2 separate regions of the Homo sapiens genome follow, and region 2 is linked to region 1. Evidence: fine-mapped expression QTL. Tissue or cell type: monocytes. Region 1 holds a variant in brackets; the other region holds the start of a gene. All regions are shown on one strand. Distances are between the middles of the regions.

The links. PIP is the estimated chance that this variant, and not a neighbour inherited with it, causes the effect.
Region 2: it holds the start of CHFR, and the variant in region 1 is fine-mapped to the expression of CHFR in monocytes (TOPMed, PIP above 0.99).

What each region holds. Positions count from the first base shown.
Region 1 is chr12:132,907,131-132,915,311 of GRCh38, reverse strand. It overlaps LOC124903065 (a long non-coding RNA gene), which reads right to left and starts at 6,644. Exons shown (of 2, transcript XR_007063553.1): 1 at 6,164-6,644; 2 at 580-4,318. RefSeq lists a silencer at 6,871-6,920. The variant C/A (reference allele first, on the strand shown) is at 4,890.
Region 2 is chr12:132,883,383-132,891,563 of GRCh38, reverse strand. CHFR (checkpoint with forkhead and ring finger domains) reads left to right here and starts at 3,959. Exons shown (of 18, transcript NM_001161346.2): 1 at 3,959-4,017; 2 at 4,224-4,368. The coding sequence starts at 4,236. It overlaps CHFR-DT (CHFR divergent transcript), which reads right to left and starts at 3,722. Exons shown (of 2, transcript NR_110919.1): 1 at 3,632-3,722; 2 at 2,993-3,444. RefSeq lists enhancers at 1,563-2,363, 2,364-3,166, 3,503-3,912 and a silencer at 3,983-4,102.

The DNA.
Region 1 (8,181 bases):
AGTGAACCGAGATTGTGTCCCTGCACCCCAGCCTGGGCGACAGAGCGTGACTCCGTCTCAAAAAAGAAAAGAAATAGTGACAGCGGCTGGGTGCAGTGGCTCATGCTTGTAAGCCCAGCACTTTGGGAGGCTGAGGCGGGTGGATCACGCGGTCAGGAGTTCGAGACCAGCCTGGCCAAGATGGTGAAACTCCATCTCTACTAAAAATACAAAAATTAGCCAGGCATGGTGGTGCGCACCTGTAATCCCAGCTACTCGGGAGGCTGAGGCAGAGAACTGCTTGTACCTGGAGGCGGAGGTTGCAGTGAGCCAAGACACGCCATTGCACTCCAGCCTGGGCAACAGAGCAAGACTCTGTCTAAAAAAAAAAAAAAAAAAAATAGTGACACCATCAAATGTTGAGGGTACATAGAAGCTGTATCACTAATACATTACCAGTGGGAGTGGAAAATGGTACAGCAATTCTAGAAAACAGTTTGGCAGTTTCTTATGAATTAAACATCAAATTACCATATAACCTAGCAATTGCACTTTTGGGGATTTATCCCAGATAAATATATTTTCTCACCAAAACCTGTACACAGATTAATATCAGTTTATTTGAACAGCCAAAAACTGAGAATAAGGTAAATGGTTAAACAAATTGTGGCACACACATATGGAATGCTATTCAGGAAAATAAATGGACTACTGATACACACAAAAACTTGGATTAATCTCTAGAGAAGTACACCAAATGCAAGAAATCAGTCCCATAAGGTTGCATATTGTATTATTCCATTTATATAACATTTCTGAAATCATAACATTTTTAATGGAGGACAGATTCTTGTGTTGCCAAGGTTTAGGAATGGGGGTAGAATGGTGGGAAGTGGGTAAGTGTTGTTATAAAAGATCTGTATGTTGAAAACGTCAAAACGCTTATGAGAGAAATAAGGGAAATCCAAATCCTAAATAAATGGAAATATGTATCATATTTGTGGTTTGGAACAATAAATAGTAGAATGTCAGTTCTCTCTAGATTTACCTATAAATTTATTGCGATCCCAATGGAAATTCCAGCAGGAGTTTTTGTAGACATTAACAAGTTAATCAAATTTATTTGGAAAAGCAGAAGAAACTAGAATAGCCAAAACATCTTTTGTCAAAGAGGAACAGAGCTGGAAGACTCGCACTCCCTGACTTCGAAACTTACTGTAAAGATACAGCAATCTAAACATTGTGTCAGAGAAAGGATAAACACATAGATCATGGACCATAATTGAGAATACATAAATAGACCTTCGTGTATATGGTCAATTGATTTTTGACAAAGTTGCAAGGGCAAATCAATGAAAATAGTGGTTTAAAAAAATGGTGCTGCAACAATTGAAAGTCAATATACAAAACAAATGAACCTCAATCCATAACTCATCCCATATTCAAACTTAATAGATGAAGATTTAAATGTAAAACCTTCACTTAACAAAAATTCTAGACACTGCACCACAGCAAAGATAAAGAGTTTACCACTAATAAACCCTCAATGAAGGAACTTCCAAAGATTGCCATCAGAGAAAAGTAGTGGGTGAAGCCAAGAGGTAATACATGTGAACCTAAACTAGTATTGGCTATGTAAACTAACAATAATAATGTTATGTTACTGGTTATGCAACAAAAATAACGCAGAACTAAAACAGTGAGTAACATGGTATGTGTTCAGGATGATCAGAGATAAAAATGTTGGGACGCTGGGTGCAGTGGCTCACGCCTGTAATCCCAGCACTTTGGGAGGCCAAGGCAGACAGATCACCTGAGGTCAGGAATTCCAGACCAGCCAGACCAACATGGTGAAACCCTCTCTCTACTAAATACAAAAAATTAGCCAGCTGTGGTGGTGGGTGTGTGTAATTCCAGCTACTTGGGAGGCTGAGGCAGGAGAATCGCTTGAACCTGGGAGGTGGAAGTTGTAGTGAGCCAAGACTGTGCCACTGCATTCCAGCCTGGGCAACAAGAGTGAAAACTCTGTCTCAAAAAAAAAAAAAAAAAAATTGGAGCCAGGCGTGGTGGCTCACACCTGTAATCCCAGCACTTTGGGAGGCCGAGGCTGGTGGATCACCTGAGGTCAGGAGTTCGAGACCAGCCCGACCAACATGGAGAAACCCCAGTCTCTACTAAAAATACAAAAATTAGCTGGGCGTGGTGTCAGGCACCTGTCATCCCAGCTACTCAGGAGGCTGAGGCAGGAGAAATGCTTGAACCTGGGAGGAAGAGGTTGCAGTGAGTTGAGATCGCGCCATCGCACTCCAGCCTGGGCAAGAAGAGCAAAACTCTGCCTCAAAAAAAAAAAAAAAATTGGGATGCCTCTCTGTTGGTTATGGAGAGAGCAGATTAAGTGATTACCTTTAGACTTTGTTAAGTCTTGTATACATAGCAAACACCTTAACATTAACACTTAAAGAATAGATATTGAAAATGGAAGTGAGAAAGCTTGATTAAATCCAAAAGAAGATAGAAAATAATAAGGGACAAAAAACACAAGGCCAATGGAAAGCAAAAAGTAAAATGATAGAAATAAACATAACTGTATCAATAATCTTTTTTTTTTTTTTTTTTTTTTTTGAGACGGAGTCTCGCTCTGTCGCCCAGGCTGGAGTGCAGTGGTGCCATCTTGGCTCACTGCAAGCTCTGCCTCACGGGTTCACGCCATTCTCCTGCCTCAGCCTCCTGAGTAGCTGGGATTACAGGCACCCACCACCACACCCGGCTAATTTTTTGTATTTTTAGTAGAGATGGGGGTTCACCATGTTAGCCAGGATGGTCTCGATCTCCTGACCTAGTAATCTGCCCACCTCGGCTTCCCAAAATGCTGGGATTACAGGCGTGAGCCACCGCACCCAGCCAACTGTATCAATAATCACAAATCATATAAACTCATCGGTTTAAAAGCAGAATGTCGCATTATGCTTTAAAATATTCCATGTATATGTTTATAAAATAAATGCATAAAAATGTTATAAAAAGTGAGTATGAGTGGAAAAATATATACCTGGCAAACATTAATTGGGTAACATAAGCTTTAGGGAAACCATCGTTAGGAATAAAAAGGGTCATTATATAAGGATAAAAGTACAATTTTCTATGAAGATATAATGATTCTATGTTCAAAATTTCAAATTAACATAGACCAAAGAATGTATTATACAAAATAGGACAATTAGAGGAATAAACTACAAATCCACATTACCATTTGGAAATTTTTGCACACTTTTCTTAGGAATTGATAGAGCAGGACAGCACATAATTGGTAAGTGATCTGGTTTGGCTGTGTCCCCACCCAAATCTCTTCTTGAATTGCAGCTCCCTTAATTCCCACATGTGGGAGGGACCTGGTGGGAGATAACTTGTTTTGGCTATGTCCCCACCCAAATCTCATCTTGAATTGCAGCTCCCACAATTCCCACATATTGTGGGAGGGACCCAGTGGGAGATAACTGAATCTTGGGAGTGGTTTCCCTGATACTGTTCTCATGGTAGTGAATAAGTCTCATGAGATCTGGTGATTTGACAAGGGGTTTCCTTTTTGCTTGGTGCTCTGATTCTCTCTTGCCACCAGCATGTCAGAAGTGCCTTTCACCCACCATGATTATGAGGCCTCCCCAGCCACATGGAACTGTGAGTCCATTAAACCTCTTTTACTTTATAAATTACTCAGTCTTGGGTATGTCTTTATCAGCAGCGTGAAAATGGACTAATACAGTAAGTATATGAAAAATTTGATTTATACAATGAATACGGTGGGTTTAACTGATATAGGACACCACACAAAATGGGATATAATCTAAAGTGGCACTTACTGGAAAATGCATTACCCCAAATGCCTCTATTAGGAAAACAGGATCAATGGAAATGTAAGTGTTAAGCATCCAACCCAAGAGATTAGGAAGAATCCTAGAAAATATCCAAATAAAAGTAGCAAAAAGGAAATAATGAAGATGAAAATGAGAATTAACAGATAATAAATCCACATCTAAAAGCTTCTTTCTTGAAAAGACTAGTGAGGCAGGGCGCGGTGGCTAACGCCTGTAATCCCAGTACTTTGGGAGGCCAAGGCAGATGGATCACGAGGTCAGGAGATCAAGACCAGCCTGGCCAACATGGTGAAACCCCGTCTCTACCAAAGATGCAAAAAATTAGCCAGGTGTGGTGGTGTGTGCCTGTAATCCCAGCTACTTGGGAAGCTGAGGCAGGGGAATTGCTTGAACCCTGGAGGTGGAGGTTGCAGTGAGCCGAGATTGTGCCGTTGCACTCCAGCCTGGGCGACAGGGTGAGACGCTGTCTGAAATAAATAAATAAATAAAGACTAATGAAATGCAAAACTTCCATTGCTAGATTAGAAATAGACCCAGAATAGTCAACACAGTATTGAAGGAGAAGAGCAATGTTGGGGAGCTGACACTACCCAACTTCAAAATTTCCTATAAAGCGATAGTAATGGAGACACTCTGATACTGGCAGAAGAATGGACAAAGAGGTCAGTGGGGCAGAATAAAGAGCCCAGAAGCAGCGCCACACAAATATAGTCAACTGATGTTTGACAAAGGAGCAAGGGCAATGCAATGGAGAAAGGATAGTCTTTTTAGCAAATGGTGCTGGAAAAACTGGACATCCACAGGCAAAAATGTGAATCTAGACAAAGACCTTATACCTTTCACAGAAACTAACTCAAAATGGATCAAAGACCTGAATGTGAAATGCAAAACTATACAACTCCTGGAAGACAGCACAGAAGAAAATCTAGGTGATCCTGGGTTTAGTGATATTTTCTCAGATACCATACCAAAAGTACAATCTGTGAAACAAAAAACTGATAAGTTGAACTTCATTAAAATTTAAAACTTGTGGCCAGG[C/A]GTGGTGGCACATGCCTGTAATCCCAGCTACTTGGGAGGCTGAGGCAGAAGAATCACTTGAACGCGGGAGGTGGAGGTTGCATGGGGCCGAGATCGCGCCATTGCACTCCAGCCTGGGCAACAAGAGCAAGACTCCGTCAGGAAAAAAAAAAAAAAGGGCCAGGCGTGGTGGCTCACGCCTGTAATCCCAGCACTTTGGGAGGCTGAGACGGGTGGATCACAAGGTCAGGAGTTCAAGACCAGCCGGGCCAAGAGACCAGCCTGGCCAATATGGTGAAACCCCGTCTCTACTAAAAATACAAAAATTAGCCGGGCGTGATGGCGGGCACCTATCATCCCAGCTACTTGGGAGGCTGAGGCAAGAGAATTGCTTCAACCCGGGAGGCAGAGGTTTCAGTGAGCCGAGATCGTGCCATTGCACTCCAGCCTGGGCAACAGAGCGGGACTCCGACTCAAAAAAAAAAAAAAAGTAAACTATAAACTTCAGTTAATAATAATATATTAATATTGGTGTATCAGTTGTAACAAATGTACCAGAGTAATATGAAACGTAAATATAGGGGAAACACTATGGTAGAACATAAGGGGAACACTAAGGTAGAAAGGGATGGGGGGAACTCCTTGTTCTTTCCAGTTGATTTTTCTGTAAACCCAACACGCTCTAAACAAAAATAAAATATATTAATTTTTTTTTAGTGCAACTAAACAAGGTCCATGAAAAAGAGAATATTGGGTGGGCGCGGTGGCTCATGCCTGTAATCCCAGCACTTTGGGAGGCTAAGGCAGGAGGCTCGCTTGAGACCAGTCTGGGCAATAGAGTGAGACCTCGTCTCTATAAAAAATTTAAAAATTAGCTGAGTGTGGTGACACACACTTGTAGTCCCAGCTACTCGGGAGGCTGAAGTGGGAGGATTGCCTGAGCCCAGGAGGCAGAGGTTGCAATGAGATTGTGGCACTGCACTCCAGCCTGGGTGACAGAAAGAGACCCTGTCTCCAAAAAAGAAAAAAATATTACAGGTTGGTCTTAGGATATATATTTTTAAATCCTGGTGAAGGATAAGTGAGCTTTTCTCAGGGAAGCAGGTGGGACAGAGGGGAATCACTTTGGGAGTGGCCTCCCACTAGTGACCTCACAGACCCCCTCACTGACCCGGCAGACCCCACATCACTGACACGTAAGACCCCAGATGACGAGGCCTGCACATCTCCTGTGACGGACAGCTGAGACCCCGTACCACTGCCCGGACCCAGCCCTGGCCCAATGGGGCTCGCACCTCCAAAGCCCACGTCCACACGTTCCGAGCCCGCCGTCCCATCGCAAACATCCGGGGGCCGCCACTGCGCCTAACGACCGCCCATCTCTGACGCCTCGGGTCGGCGTTTGATTTTTAACCCAAGAAAAGAGTAAAAGTCAAGCGGAAATCAACGCAGAAGCGGTGCTGCAGCCTCTGAGCTTCCTGACGGCCGTGTCCAGAGCCGGGCTCCTCCTCCGGCGGCAGCCGCCGGGCTCACTTCAGTGCGCTCAGCTTCTCGCGGGGACAAGCGTCTGGGCGGGGACGGCCCGAGGCGGGGGTGTGGCGAGGCTGGAGAACGCTGAAAGCTGGTGGGCTTGGGAAGACAAACGACGCTCTGAAATTTGGCTCCCAGGTAATACGTTCCGGCACTTCGCGGCGGCTCAGTCAGCGCTGCTGGGTTCCACCCCTCCTATGCGTTGCTCAGGGACAGGTTTCTTAGTGACAGGCCCCTCACTATTCCCATTGGCCAGGACGCCCAAGGCCCACGCAGCCGTTGGCTAAAATTGTTGTCTGTTTCAGACACGTTGGCGAATTCCCCGCCTCTACGTTGCCGGGAGACAGCATGTTGCCTAGCAGCGTGCGGCTCCCATTGCCTTTGGGCGCGGCTCTCCGCCCCGACCCGCCCCTCTGGGACCCATCCGGGTCTGCGCCTCAGCTAGACAGGGCGGGCTGCGGCGCGCAGTCTTAGGCGTGCGCTTCGGGGAAGGGGCCCTCGCGTGGGAGGAGCGCGTCTGCGAGGGATGCGCCGGCGCAGGCGAGACCCGGAGCCGCGTGGTCTCTGCGCAGTGCGTCGTGTGGGGCGGCCGACCCCGGCCCGGGTTTCCCTGCTCGTTTTCGTCCGGGCGGGCGTCTTGGTTCCCGTTCCAGGCCAGCCCCATCCTAGGTCGCTGCTTCATCCAGCGCTTGGGGCATTTGTGTCGTTGGCGTTGTTTTCCTCTTAACTACAAACTTTAAATGTGTTCATCTACTCGTGACGGCGAGTTTAGCAGACTTTCATTCCCAGAAGACGTGTCACACGATCTGTATATTTTTCATACAGAAATTGACGGACGTCGTTACTTCTAAATTTCCACAGGGGCTGGTTCATCCCGCGGCTTTACCTAGAGAAAAACGTCTGAGGCCGGGCGCGGCGGCTCCCGCCTGTAATCCCAACACTTTGGGAGGCCGAGGCGGGCGAATCACGAGGTCAGGAGTTCGAGACCAGACTGGCCAACATGGTGAAACCTCGTCTCTACTAAAAATACAAAAAAAAAAAAAAAAAAAAAAAAAAAAAAAAATAGCCGGGCGTGGCGGCGCATGCCTGTAATCCCAGCTACTCAGGAGGCTGAGGCAGGAGAATCGCTTGAACCCGAGATGGTGCCACTGCACTCCAGCATGGGCGATAGAGCGAGACTCCGTCTCAAAAAATAATAATAAAATAAAAACCATGGACAATGGGAGGAGAACATCACACACCGGGGCCTGTCGGGGGTGGGGGGCCAGGGGAGGGATAGCATCAGGAGAAATACGTAATGTAGATAACTGGTTGATGGGTGCAGCAAACCACCATGGCACGTGTATACCTATGTAACAAACCTGCAGGTTCTGCACATGTACCCCAGAACTTAAAGTATAATTTTAAAAAGAGAGAGAGAAGCGTCTGAGCGTTTCTCAGGGACGGCGGGTGGCAGCCAGGACGGGCTGGGGCGGTGAAGTGCGGGGCGGGAAGCGACGCGTGCGCCTCCTGCGCTGGCTTCTGTGAAAGGAGGGACTGATTGGAGATCACTGCTGAAAAGTGGACTACGCATCAGTGAATAGTTAGTGAAATATGAGCTTCTACATTCAAAACCATTTGTGCTTTAAAGATTTTGTTTCACCATGGTATCGTATTTATCTGAATCCTATGTTGCTTTTGCTTTGTAATCTGAATTGTCTGTCACTCCCCCAGTCTCAGTTTTTTGTTAACTGTTCAATATTCATAGAAATGTCTCTACATGGGACCCTTTAACAGAGAGAGT
Region 2 (8,181 bases), 24 kb after region 1:
TGTCATAATTAACAGGTTTGTAAGCTGCCTTTTTAAGCCCTTCAACTAGGCAGGAAATCATGTAATCTTGCCTAGCTGTACCTGGGGAATCTGCCTGATAGTTCCATTGGGGATCCTCTCGGGGAACTGCTCTGATGCCTTCCTGGAGGTATGGCTCGTGAAGCCGGTGGTTATCAGCGTGAGATTGGGCTAGAGAAAAAACTCTTTCCCGTTCATCTGGGGAGAGGGTAGAAGTCAGGATGACATTTAGGTCACTCCAGGTTAACTTGTAGGACAAAGTTAGATATCGGAATTCCTGTATATGTTTAGTGGGGTCTGATGAGAAAGAGCCTAAATGTTGACTGATCTGAGAGAGGTCTGATAGAGAAAAAGGCACATGTACCCTGACTATGCCTTCAGCTCCAGCCACCTCTCTAAGAGGAAATTGTTGGGCAGGTGGGGAAGAGCTAGTCAAGGAACTAAACTGTAAGCCGGACCGGGTGTGAGGAGGGGAGGTGACAGAAAGATTATAGGGTGGAGGAGCGGAGGCTGAGGAAGAATTGGGACTTAGCTTGGCCTGGCGACGAGCAGCCTGGGGAGGAGGGGAGAGGTCAGATGGGTCTGTAGAAAAGGAAGACTGGAAAGACTCAGCGACGCTTGGGGTTGGGACTGAGGGAACAGGCAGGAGGGAGAGAAGGAGGATTTGGGAGGAATCGCATTGGGAACAGAGACTAGGGAGGGAACGAAGTGTGAAAAATGCCTGGATGTAAAGCACCTCAGATCATTTGCCTATTTTTTGACAAAAATTATTTAGGTCTTGTAGAATGGAGAAGTTGAAAGTGCCGTTTTCTGGCTATTTAGAGCCATTGTCAAGTTTGTATTGGGGCCAAGCGGTGTTGCAGAAGAAAACAAGGCGTTTAGGTTTTAGGTCAGGTGTGAGTTGAAGAGGTTTTAAGTTTTTGAGAACACAGGCTAATGGAGAAGAGGGAGGAATGGAGGGTGGAAGTTTGCCCATAGTGAAGGAGGCAAGCCCAGAGAAAAGAGAGGGTAGAGACATGGAGAGAAGGGGGTGGGGGGTGCTTGCCACCCAGGAAAGTGAAGAAGGGGTAGAGACACGGAGAGAAGGGGTTGGGGGGTTCTTGCCCCCCAAAAAAGCATTACTTGCCACTAAGGGTGAAGGACCAAGGCAGGCGTCCCTGCATGGTCAGACACCTCTGAAACGTGGGTGAATAATCAGGCAGGCGTCCCTGCGCGATTAAACACCAAGGGAAGACTGTCTTCCCGAGTCCATGACCGGCGCCGGAATTTTGGGTTCATGGATAAAACGCGTCTCCTTTGTCTCTACCAGAAAAGGAAAGGAACTGAAATTAAGAGTAGGGAGAGATTAAAGTGTGGCACCAAGATTGAAAGGAGAAAGAGGTTGAAGGATAGTGAGAGAGGTGGGAGAAGAGAGTGAAAAGAGGCCATTACCCGATTTAAAATTGGTGAGATGTTCCTTGGGCTGGTTGGTCTGAGGACCTGAGGTCGTAGGTGGATCTTTCTCACGGAGCAAAGAGTAGGACAGGGGATTGATCTCCCAAGGGAGGTCTCCCGATCCGAGTCACGGCACCAAATTTCACTCGCGTCCATGTGAAGAGACGATCAAACAGGCTTTGTGTGAGCAATAAAGTTTTTTACTCACCTGGGTGTAGGCGGGCTGAGTCCGAAAAGAGAGTCAGCAAAGGGCAGATAGGGGTAGTGGGGCCGTTTTATAAGATTTAAGTAGGTAAACGAAAATTACAGTCAAAGGGGGGTTGTTCTCTGGTGGGCAGGGGTGGGGGTCACAAGGTGCTCAATGAGGGAGCTTTTTGAGCCAGGATGAGCCAGGAGAAGGAATTTCACAAGGTAATGTCATCAGTTAAGGCAAGGACCGGCCATTTTCACTTCTTTTGTAGTGGAATGTCATCAGCTAAGGCAGGAACAGGCCATTTTCACTTCTTTTGTGATTCTTCAGTTACTTCAGGCCATCTAGGCATATATATACATGCAGGTCACAGGGGATGCGATGGCTTAGCTTAGGTTCAGAGGCCTGACATGATCCACCTGCCTCAGCCTCCCAAACTGCTGGGATTACAGACGTGAGCCACTGCGCCCAGCCGGTTTTACACCTTTTAGGGAGAAAGTTCATAGATGGATTCAAAGATTTTCTGATTGGCACTTGGTTGAAAGAGTTGTTATTATCTAAAGACCTGGAATCAATAGAAAGGATTGTCTGGGTTAAGCTAAGGGAGACAAAGTTTCTATTTTGTTATTTTTTTTTTGACAGGGTCTCTGTTGCCCAGGCTGGATTGCAGTGGCACAGACTGTGGTTTACCGCAGCCTTGTCCTCCCGGGCTCAAGGAATCTGCCCACCTCAGCCTCCTGAATAGCTGGGACTATAGGCATGTGCTGTCATCATGTCCAGCTAAGACGGGGTCTCCCCATGTTGCCCAGGATGGTCTGAATTCCTGGGCTCAAGCGATCCACCCACCTCGGCCTCCCAAAGTGCTAGGATTACAGGCTTGAGCACCACCACTCTGGCCATTCTAATGCAGATGCCGCTCCAGGCAGCAGGCTTCAGAGAGAATAGATGGTAAACTTTTCTTATCAGAGTTAAAAAGGTGCCAGAGTCTTACATTCTCTCCTGGATCAGGAAAAGATGTGGAAAAGGAAGGAGATTCTCTACAAAGTAGATTTCCCCCAGGAGACAGTTTTGCAGGGCTACGTAAAACTATGTTAAATAAATACATGTCAGGGTAAAATACTTCGTTTTCTTCCAGGGCCTGCTATTTGTCATGTGATGTATCTTAATGCTACAGACCGTTTGGTCAGCCTTAAGTTGTCTGTTTTAACGTCGACGCTGGTCAGTTATACCTGAATTCCAAAGGGAGGACAGTATAATGGGACATATCCAAACCCTGCTTCCCATCAGGGACTGAACTGGTTTTTCAGATTAACTTTGGCGTTGAGAGACTCAGTTCATTCAGTTGGTTGGGGAGGCTTACAATTTTATTTTTGGTTTACAAGGTATAGATAACTATGCCTATACCTATATATACAAATGTTTATATATGTATATATGTGTGTATATATGGTTTGTTTTACACAAATGGATGCCTACTTTATTTATTTTGGTAGCGATGAGGTCTCAGGCTAATCTCGAACTCCTGGGCTCGAGATCCTCCTGCCTAGGCCTTCCAAAGCACTTAGATTACAGGCGTAAGTCACTGCGCCCGGTCCTGCTTCACCCTCTTAAAACCGCCCTTGGGGGCTCCTCATGAGTGCAGACATTGGCGCGTTCCTCCAAACCGCACAGACTCCCCCTGCGTGGACGCGTCTCGCCGTCTTTACTCCTCTTTCGCCGACCTTTCACTTTCAGGGAATACCCTCTGGCGCCCTTCTCTGGAGCACACACGTGAACGCCGCCGGATTCCAAGAAGTGAGATACTGAGGCAAAAGTTACGCGCGTTCAGAACAGGAAGACCCCGCAAAACGCCGGCCAAGACGTGGCCCCGCGTCCACCCTGCCCACAAGCAGCCGCTCCCACTCGCGGACCGCGCCCTGTGCCTCAGACTTCGGATCTGTGTGATCCACTGTGTGCAACTGTACCCGAAAGGGTCCCCACGTGCACTACCTCGTGACAACTAAGATGGACCGTCTTCTACTCCTAGGAGTCATCCCCAGATTAGCGGGGCTCTCAGAATCCTTGGGGCTTCCAATCCGGAAGTTCCCCGTCCCTTCTGCCCCAACATAACATGGCGCCGACCGCAGCCACTTCCGTGATCCGCAGGCGACGAAGTCGCCTGGTCAGGATCAAAGATGGCCGAGCGCCCTCCACGCGCCTACTCTCGCGGGCCACTCCCGGCTCCGCTTTAGCTGCCGCTCTTGGTGAGCGCCGCCGCCAGCCAATCGCGGGGCGCAGAGGCCTCTGGCCCCGCCCCGCGGATCAGCTGAGGGAGCCGCAATGTCTCTTGACAGCGGCGGCGGCGCAGCCGGTTCCGGGTTCGGCGCGGGGCGGGGGTAAGCGCGGCTGGCGAGGGGGCTGCGGCGGGCGGCGAAGGGGGACCTGGTTGCGGCCGTGGGAGGGGGCGCCCGCCGGCGTCCAGGCCGGGCTGCGGGGCTGCGTGGGCGCGGGCGGCCGGGCCGGGGCCCGCGGGGTGGGGCGGGCGCCGAGTCTCGGCCTCTGGGGTCGGGAGTCTCCATGGGCGTTTCCGGGGTCTCCGCAGATGTGAATCCCGATGGAGCGGCCCGAGGAAGGCAAGCAGTCGCCGCCGCCGCAGCCCTGGGGACGGCTCCTGCGTCTGGGCGCGGAGGAGGGCGAGCCGCACGTCCTCCTGAGGAAGCGGGAGTGGACCATCGGGCGGAGACGAGGTGCGGGGCTGAGGCCGGGGCCGGGGGCCGGGGCCGGGCAGAGCCACCGGGTTGCGGGCAGGCCACACGGGCGGCGGTGCAGTGTGCGCTCCAGATTTTTCCGTGGAGTGAAATGTCATGTAAGAACTGGTATTTATTCGGTGTTCTGCCCACCGATTCTTGCGCATGATTCACGCACATCATTTAGCCTTCGTTACAACTGTATAAGTTAGTTGTGTTCATATACTCTCCAGAATGCAATATTGTCACGTTCGTTGCCGTACAGAGTATCTTTTCTGACTGTAATGGAACGAAATTAAAAATAATAGAAGGAAAAGTGGAAAATTCACAGATATGTGGACATGAAACACCACACTCTTAAAGCAACCGGTGGGTCAAATAAGTCTTTACAACGGGGACCTTGTTTTGAGACAAATGAAACAAAAATAGAATACACCAAAAGGTATTTAGGATGCAGCCAAGGCAGTACTCAGAGGGAAATTTATAGCTGTAGTGCTTATATTAAAAAAGATCTCAAGTCCCAGCCCCTAGAATATTTATTTATTTAATAAACCTGGAAAGCTAAAAACTTGAACAAAGTCATACAACGGGTGAGAGAAAGTTCCCTCAGCCTCCACATTCACTGCCTCCAGTCTCCCAAGTGACCATCTGGTTGTTTGATTTCCTCTGAAGCCTTTGTATGGGGAGAGAAATGCGCTGGTCCTGTCAACAAAAATGTTTAGTTTGTCTGAAAATTAATGAATTAGCTCCGACATTATACTCTAAAAAGGAGCGAGGATGGGAAATATTTGCTGTTTGGAAGCAATTTTTTTTTTTTTTTTGGTTAATTTCACCCCTTATAATGTGCTTGCACCTGGTTTTTTTTGTTTTTTTGTTTGTTTTTTTGAGATAAGAGTCTTGCTCTGTGGCCCAGACTGGGGTGCAGTGGTGTGATCTCAGCTCACTGCACCCTCTGCCTCCCGGTTCAAGTGATTCTCCCGCCTCAGCCTCGGAGTAGCTGGGACTACAGGCGTGCGCCACCATGCCTGGCTAATTTTTGTATTTTTAGTAGAGATGAGCTTTCGCCATATTGCCCAGGCTGGTCTTGAACAACTGAACTAAAGTGATTCACCTGCTTCGGCCTCCGAAAGTGCTGGGATTACAGGTGTGAACCACTGTGTCTGACCTGGTTTTGTTTTTTGGGGTGTTTTGGTAGTCTTACATTCCAGTATCAAGTCAAAGTTTATTTTACAACTTTGAAAGTATTTAGATATCATCATAACATATCAAAATTATCCCTTTAAGACAAGAGGAAGTATTTGAAGATTTTTCCCTTTGTCTTTACTTGATAGACTAGGAGGTTTGGTGAAGAGCAGAGGCCCTAGAGACAAATTATGTGGGTTTCCAATCTGTCAACACATTACTCTGGGCTAACGACATCTTTCTGCGCCTATGTACCTACTTCATAGATTTGCTCTGAGGAGTTAATGAGATCATACACGGACTGCTTAGAAGGAACTTTAGCGTTAGCACTTAGCATTAGCCATTGTTATTGTAACATGTTATACATGTTATTACATGGTAGGACATTACATGTTAAGACAAGGAGAGAAAATATGTCGTTGAGTTTATCTTTTAATAGGAACGATTTTAGTGAATTTATAAATAATGTTGCCAGCAAAAACTTTAAGATTATTGTATTAGTTTGTTCATACTACCATAGCAAAATACTACATTCTGGGTGGCTTAAGCAACAGAAATTTATTTATTTATTTATTTATTTATTTATTTATTTATATATTTTTTGAGACAGAGTCTCACTCTATCACCCAGGCTGGAGTGCAGTGGCGCGATCTCGGCCCACTGCAAGCTCCACCTCCCGGGTTCTTGCCATTCTTCTGCCTCAGCCTCCCGAGTAGCTGGGACTACAGGCGCCCACCACCACGCCTGGCAGTGGTATTTTGTATTTTTAGTAGAGACGGGGTTTCACCATGTTAGCCAGGATGGTCTCAATCTCCTGACCTCGTGATCTGCCTGCCTCAGCCTCCCAAAGTGCTGGGATTACAGGCGTGAGCTATCGCGCCCGGCCAGAAATTTATTTTTTATTTTATTTTATTTTTTTAATTTTTGAGATAGAGTCCTGCTCTGTCACCCAGGCTGGAGTGCAGTGGCATGATCTCGGCTCACTGCAACTTCCCTCTTCCAGGTTCAAGCGATTCTCCTGCCTCAGCCTCCCGAGTAGCTGGGACTACAGGCACGTACCACCACACCTGGCTTATTTTTTTCTATTTTAGTAGAGATGGGGTTTCACTGTGTTGCCCAGGCTGGTCTCGAACTCCTGAGCTCCAGCAATCTGTCTGCCTCGGCCTCTCAAAGTGCTAGGATTACAGGTGTGAGCCACTGTGCCTGGCCAGAAATTTATTTTCATGGTTCAGGAGGCTGGGAAGTCCAAGATCAAGGTGTTGGCAGATTGGGTTCCTGGTGAGGGCTCTCTTGGCTTGCAGGTGGCCACTTTCTTGCTGTGTCCTCACATGGCAGAGAGGGGGACTCTGCTTGCTCTCTCTGCCTCCTCTTAAGAGGGCACCAGCCCTGTGACATCTGATTCCCACCTAGTGACCTCATTTAACATTTATCAGCTCACAGGCCCCATTTCCAAATACAGTCACATTGGGGATTAGGACTTAAATATATGAATTTTAGGGGGGTACAGACACTCAGTTACAAACATTCAGTTCCTAACAGTTGTAGAACTTGATTATTTTATTTATTTATTTTATATATATATATGTATTTTTTTTTTTGAGACGGAGTTTTGCTCTTATTGCCCAGGCTGTAGTGCAGTGGTGCCTTCTTGGCTCAACCTCCAACCTCCCGGGTTCAAGCAATTCTCCTGCCTCAGCCTCCCGAGTAGCTGGGATTACAAGTATGTGCTACCACGCTCAGCTACTTTTTGTATTTTTAGTAGAGACGGGGTTTCTCCATGTTCGTCAGGCTGGTCTTGAACTCCTGACCTCAGGTGATCCACCCGCCTCGGCTTCCCAAAGTGCTGGGATTACAGGCGTGAGCCACTGTGCCCGGCCTGATATATTTATTTTTTGAGACGGAGTCTTACTCTGTCACCCAGGCTGGAGTGCAGTGGTGCGATCTTCACTCACTACAACCTGCATCTTCCAGGTTAAAGTGATTCTCCTGCCTGAGCCTCCAGACTAGCTGAGATTTCAGGCGTGTGCCACCACACCTGGCTAGTTTTTTGGTATTTTTAGTAGAGATGAGGTTTTACCATGTTGGTCAGGCTGGTCTTGAACTCCTGGCCTCAAATCAAATGATCCACCTGCCTTGGCCTCCCAAAGCGTTGGGATTACAGCCATGAGCCACCTCGCCCAGACAGAACTTGATTATTTTAAAGCAATGATGTGCCTGCCATTTATAAGGCATTATTTGGGGGAAAAGGGAAAGCCTAGGTAACGTGTAGGAAGGGGTGCAACAACCTTGTTTTCCCAAAGAGCTCTTTATCCAGTCTGGAGTGCAGTGGCACGATCTCGGCTCACTGCAAGCTCTGCCTCTTGGGTTCACACCATTCTCCTGCCTCAACCTCCCAAGTAGCTGGGACTACAGGCACCCGCCACCATGCCCGGCTAATTTTTTTTGTATTTTTAGTAGAGACAGGGTTTCACCATGTTAGCCAGGATGGTCTTGATCTCCTGACCTCATGATCCACCCGCCTCGGCCTCCCAAAGTGCTGGGATTAGAGGCGTGAGCCACTGCGCCCAGTCTTTTTTTTTTTTTTTTTGAGACGGAGTTTCACTCCTATTTCTCAGGCTGGAGTGCAATGAT